Linked DNA regions of Homo sapiens: region 2 is linked to region 1. The links come from fine-mapping of genetic effects on gene expression. A gene starts in region 1. The other region holds a variant in brackets. All regions are shown on one strand. Distances are between the middles of the regions. Region 1 holds the start of TTK (TTK protein kinase). Region 2 has its middle 47 kb from the start of BCKDHB.

Region 1 (2,924 bases):
ATTTTCAATTCCTCATCTATTTAAAGGTTAGTATAGATGTAAGAAAATTATCCAAAGGTCACCATTCAAATGACCAACCATTTGAAATACAGTAAAGAATCAGGCTTCTGAGCTAATACTTTTAGAAGAGCTAGAGTATTAAACTCTGGGCATTTTCACCCATTAATCATTGTTCAATAAATGTTTAAGTGCCTACCTACCATGTGCCAGACACCATTCAAAGTTCTGTGGATATAACAGACAAAAACCCTGCCATCATGTAGCCTGCATTCTAATGGAGGAGAAAGACAATAAACACATGAGTAAATTATAAATAAAGTGATTAGTACTATATCTTTACCTTAGAGGATACCCAACAAACAGTTACTAACTTAAAAGAAAAGAAAAACTCACCTGTAGTATCAGCAGAAATTTTATTCAAGCTTAGTTCATCAGTAAGGTCTTCATTTTTAAACTTATTTTTAATGTCTCTCACTTTGTTCATTATGGAATCAATTGTCAATTCTCTGCCACTTAAATCCTCGGATTCCATTTCTAAGAAAAAAACTGAACAGTCATAACTCCTACTTTAACTAGCATCAAAGAAAAAAATGCACTAGCTTTTTAGAACCCAGACGACTAAAGCATTCGTTTTGTGAACACATCTAAATGCAGCTATTATTAGGCTAGTATTAATGGAGGTAAGTGCACAACAACAAGGTACACATCTTTGTAATTTATTCACCAAGGTTTCATAGGCCAAGTATACTTTTTCCCCCAATATAACATCAATGACGTCACACTGTAGAAATCTGCAAATTTAGTGTCACTTAAAAAAAATATGATAGAGTGTTTGCTTGGATTTTGGTAGCGACATACACATAAAGATTGCTTGGATTCTGGTAGTGACATAGACATAAAGAATTCGTTTGGCAATGGGAATAACAATTCCTTTATTCGCCTGCTTTACTTGAGTAAATCTTCCAGTGCAAGTGCTTTCAAAGCAGAATATAAACATGATGGGGCTTTACTGATAATTAGGAAATCCGCAGATTTATTCTTGTGCATATCTAGCAGAATCACGATTTGCTACCTTAATCTAACACTAAGAAACTATTGTACTGGTACTGAGCACTTGCTTATCTGCATGGTGGTGGTGTTTGTTCAATAAAGTGTCTGCAGTCTTATTGTTAATCGTATCTTTGTGACTCTCAAACACCAACTCAGTGTCACTGATAACAATGCTGCCCCGTCTTCAGGTTTAACAATGAAAAAAAGTCATAAAGTTGCAGCAAGGTATCACTCCACCTCTTAAGTCAGGTTTGAAAGATAACTGTCAGATCACGGCCACCCGCTTCTTTCCCAGTTCTAACCCCCAAAACAAGAGAGACTGTCCTTTGGAAAACGATCTTGTGCGCAGGTACCCCACCACCCCTTCTTTCCAGCGTGGGCCACACCCACTTCTTACTTCCTCAACAAAACCTCCTGCATCACCCCACCGGCCAGACCCGCTGAGGCAGTGAGACATCCCCTCCCCCTCCAGCTCGTTTAGCCGCGTCGCATACCTGGCTCCGAGCTGCCCCCACCTCGCCCCACCCCTCACCGACCAGCGCTAACAATGAGCCCCTACACCGGCTGCGGCTGTTCCTCAGTGCGCCGGTGCACCGGTAAGACAGAACTTACCTACAGAAAGCTGCGCTGGGGAAATGAAAAGATGGAACCCAAACTCCTTTCCGCAAACACGTTTGAATTTCCCCGTCGCTATCACTACGGTCTCCTATTGGTCAATGCTAGCCACGTAGAAGCGACAGTCGTGATTGGTTCTTGTGCGACGGGGGCCGCCCCTCCTCCTGCGTCAGGCTAGGCCCGCCCCGGAAGAGCCTGCGGCCGCGACCCCACCCGTGCGGCGCCTGGGTTGGTAGGGTGCTGGCACTTTGCAGGCGTTCCCCGGACGCCCGTGGGCGGGCTTTCCTGGTCTTTCCAGTTTAACCAGGCCGAATTTTTGCCTGGGAGGTAGCCACTCCCGAGCAAACCTACCCAGTGAGAGGAATATAGGGGCAGGGACGGCTGCTCCTAGCATCAGGACCTAAAAGATGCACCTTGGGCCGGCCCTTTACTGACCCCACCGCCACCCTTCTCCTTCGTTTCCCGCGGTTCTCACAGCCTGGCTTAGAGAGGATGTGGCAAGAAAGGATCTTTCACTGAGCTACGTTCAGCCCTGCCGCCAGCTCAAGAATTTCAGTGCTTTTTATCCTTGAGCTTCTGCTTATGCCCTTCCATTATCCTTAAATGACTCCACGCTCTGTCTTCAAGCCAAGACCCTCCCCCTTGTCAAAATTCTGCGCAGAACTCAAGCGCCCATCGTGATTGCCCTGTCTGAAGTCGCCTTATCGGCCCCCCTCCCTCGAAGCCTGCCCCACTTAAGGGCTCAGGTGTCCTCAGGGGTAAAAACATCTCCCTAGTAATAATCTTCGCGGGTGCGAGGCTCTGCCGCTAAGTGGCTTTGTGGTCCAGGGCAACGGTTACTCCTCGTCTGCAAAACTAAAAGGGATGTGTCTGTTGTGCCAGCATTATGACATATATTCTGTGGTAGGACGGGTTGGTTTTGTGTATGTATAGGAAACTAACTGCAGCTGTCACTTGTTAACTCCAAAGCTATCCTTAGAACCCTCACATTCCCAGCTCTGGATAGCCACCCAGCTAGCGTGAGAGCCCTTCTCAATCACTTAATGCATCTTTCTGTGTCAGCTAGCTAGTATTTCTGCTTCAGCAGAGCAAAATGACTTGCTATACCATGGTTGGCTAATCACTTACCTTTGCACCATTGCATCTAATGCTTCTGCCTGGAAAGAGTTTATTATTCCTCCAATTCTCGTTGATCTGTTTGCGGCCTGATCACAAAGCTTGCATTTTCCTTAAAATACTGTTGCTGGATGACCTCACCC
Region 2 (2,924 bases), 54 kb before region 1:
TCTGAAAAACACATATTTTCTTGTGTGCATTTATTTTAATTTACTTAAGTCTTATTGTGCTATAGAGTTATCTCTGTTTCTTACTTCCTTAGCACTATCTTTAAGATCTATGCATGGCCGCACATGAACATCTAGACCATTGTTGATAGCATTTCCCACATTACTTTCCCATTTCCACCATGACAGATACAAAGATTACCTCCAAGTCCTAGCCTATAAATGTGTTGTCATAAATATTCTTGAATGTGTCCCTTCATGAAACTGGATGATCATTTCTCTGTGAATATTTGTTTAGTCTCACATAAGACAACCTTAACAATTCTACTTACCATTATTGAAAAACAATTTAAACAAAAATATTTCACTGTAATAAAATAGTTGAAATATGACCTCTATAATCTAACGTAAGACAGGAAGAAGGAAGCAAAGAAAAAATTTAAGTAAAAGAATTTAAATGGTTGAGTTTAAAAAGAAAAAATATGTATTTCAAATAAGGAAGATAATAGAAGAACGTTCAGTATATACGTGAGTCTGGAGAGTACAAGACAGGAAAGAGTATGGAGACAAGAGGCTGAATTACAGGAATGCCCAGTTCCCTTGATTTTTAGTCTTTCTGGGATGTGCATAGTGGGAAGGAAGGAAGATGAAGATTGGCAAGATTCCTGGCTGACTCCTGGAGGTGATTTTGTAACTTAAGCATGAATATTGTCTCCTGCCCTCATGTATTTGGCTCACCTACATAATCATGTACTGTGATTTACTCTCGCAACAGCCACCCCGTGACTAGGTATGTCAGCTGCCAAGACTCCTGTACTTCTCTTCTGGGGACCCAAGACCTACTTGGGCTTCTTTCCCTTCTCTACCTTAGCAGTGATTGGTCTCAGGACATAATGTTTATGTCATGCCTTCTGAGTTTAGGAATATATTCTGTCTCCTAACACAGGCACACTTGCTGTACTGAATACACAGGCAAATGAACACAAAGTCGAATCACTGTTTTATCTACAAATCCTGCTAATCCTGGATCACATACACAAAAAAAGACTGAGTATTCTTTTGAGTAAATTTCAATAGTGTCATGAGTTGGAGCAAGTCAAGGTCCTGTGGGGTGTTTGACTTAAATTTAATGGTGAACAAAGCTTTGAACATTCTTCTTTTCCTTGTTTCTACTCTTCTTCTTTCATTTATTGTGACTTTTCAAATAACGGAGAAAATATCACTTAGATAACAAAGCCATGTATGGATGAAGAACACAACACTAAATGAATTTCTGAGATTATAACATCTATGATAATATATCAAAATTAGAATGGAGATTATCCCCATCACTCCTTATTCTTTGCATTGGTTAATAGTTCACATTCCCAAGTTTCACGTTGTATCTCTTGGGAAGAATGATGTGATTTTTTTCAAATCTCCCTGACAAGTACTCTCTTAACCTAATTCTACTTGGCCTGGTCTTGAAAGTGTTTCTATTGACACTTCTCTCTTTGCCAACTGACCCAAGTTCTAATGTTGGTAGAAGAAACAAAGCTTCGAAGTAGATATATCTTAATCATCAGAATCACATGTTCTGGGAAAAGAAGCTAATCTGTATACATAAAAATACAGCAAGGAGAAGTAGGACTTTGGACAAATCTTAGAAAACTTCTGAGACTCTGTTTCCTCATCCGTACAATGAGAATATTAAGGAAATGGTGTCTAAATGTCTTCCAGATCTGATCAGACCCTCTACTTCTTCCACTGCCCACTGCTCACTGTCCTCTTTGCATATATTTTCTTCTTCAGCAATCATAAATAAA[G/TAAAG]AAAAATTTGTGTATATAGATACACATGGATAGTTATTACATATGATGTTACTGAGTGTCCATTATATCCTAGGCATTTTACTTGTGTTGCCCCATTTAATCCTTATTTAATGCTGCAATGTATTATTAACCATATTTTATATATGAGAAATCATCTATAAAGGTTAAGCAATTTACATGAAACCTACAGTTAGTAAATGAGAAGCCTGGAGTCAAACTCTGGTTTATAAACTCCAAAATCTACACTCTTTACATTAAAATATATTGCCAATCACACAAATAAGTACAAACCGATGTGCAGACTAGAAAGACCAAAATTGTTCTCCTTCCAACTTTAGTACTATAGAAGATATGTTCAAGTGTTTCTGCTTTTTGGGTGGTATGCTTGTAAATTGCAAATACCAAAAAGATCTAATCTAGGGTCTTAACATTTACAGGATGAAAAAGAGAGGTGGTGACAGTGGAGAGAGAGAAAGAGAGGGAGGGAAGGAAACGCCAAACTGAGTCAATAAAGGAGTTCAGCGGAGAGGAAAATTATTCTGAACTGGGACTTTTCTGGGTTGCTTCACAAACATGGTAGAACTTGCAGTTCTAGAGACCTAGAGAAGAAATGCCTTCGTCAGTGCAGAACAAGGCTTTGTATGTATTTAGGGTACTTGTAACTACAAATAACAGATAACATACAATTCAACTTGGCATAAATAATAAGGAAAATTTATTATCCTATCTAACAAGAACTCTCAAGGTAAGATGGCTTCAGGATTGGATCACTTCATGCTTTACATCACCAGGGATCCATATATATATATATATATATATATTTTCATCCTTTTGCTTTGCCCTCCTACTCTTAGTTCTCCTCATAGTTGCAGGAAAGCTACCGCAGTTCATGATATCAAATGCAGGCATAACTACATCGAGTAGGGACTACTTCCCATGAATTTATTTTTAAGAATAAAAATCTATTTCCTATAGTCCCCTGGCATACTATTCTTCATCTTTCATTGGCTAGAATTAAGAAATATGCCCGTGCCTAAACCAATCACTGGCAGGACAATGAGGCCACCACGATGCATTTAAGCCAATCAGGACTGACCGCTTGAACTGGGAATAGAGCCAGCC

Evidence for each region. PIP is the estimated chance that this variant, and not a neighbour inherited with it, causes the effect.
Region 2: its variant is the best candidate, but not a certain one, in a credible set for the expression of TTK in whole blood (INTERVAL, PIP 0.80).

The regions. Positions count from the first base shown.
Region 1 is chr6:80,003,452-80,006,375 of GRCh38, reverse strand. It overlaps TTK (TTK protein kinase), which reads right to left and starts at 1,727. Exons shown (of 22, transcript NM_003318.5): 1 at 1,663-1,727; 2 at 394-534. The coding sequence starts at 532. RefSeq lists enhancers at 2,126-2,245, 1,816-2,690.
Region 2 is chr6:80,057,932-80,060,855 of GRCh38, reverse strand. No RefSeq gene overlaps it. Among named protein-coding and RNA genes, the nearest start is that of BCKDHB, 47 kb to the left of the region's middle. The variant G/TAAAG (reference allele first, on the strand shown) is at 1,803.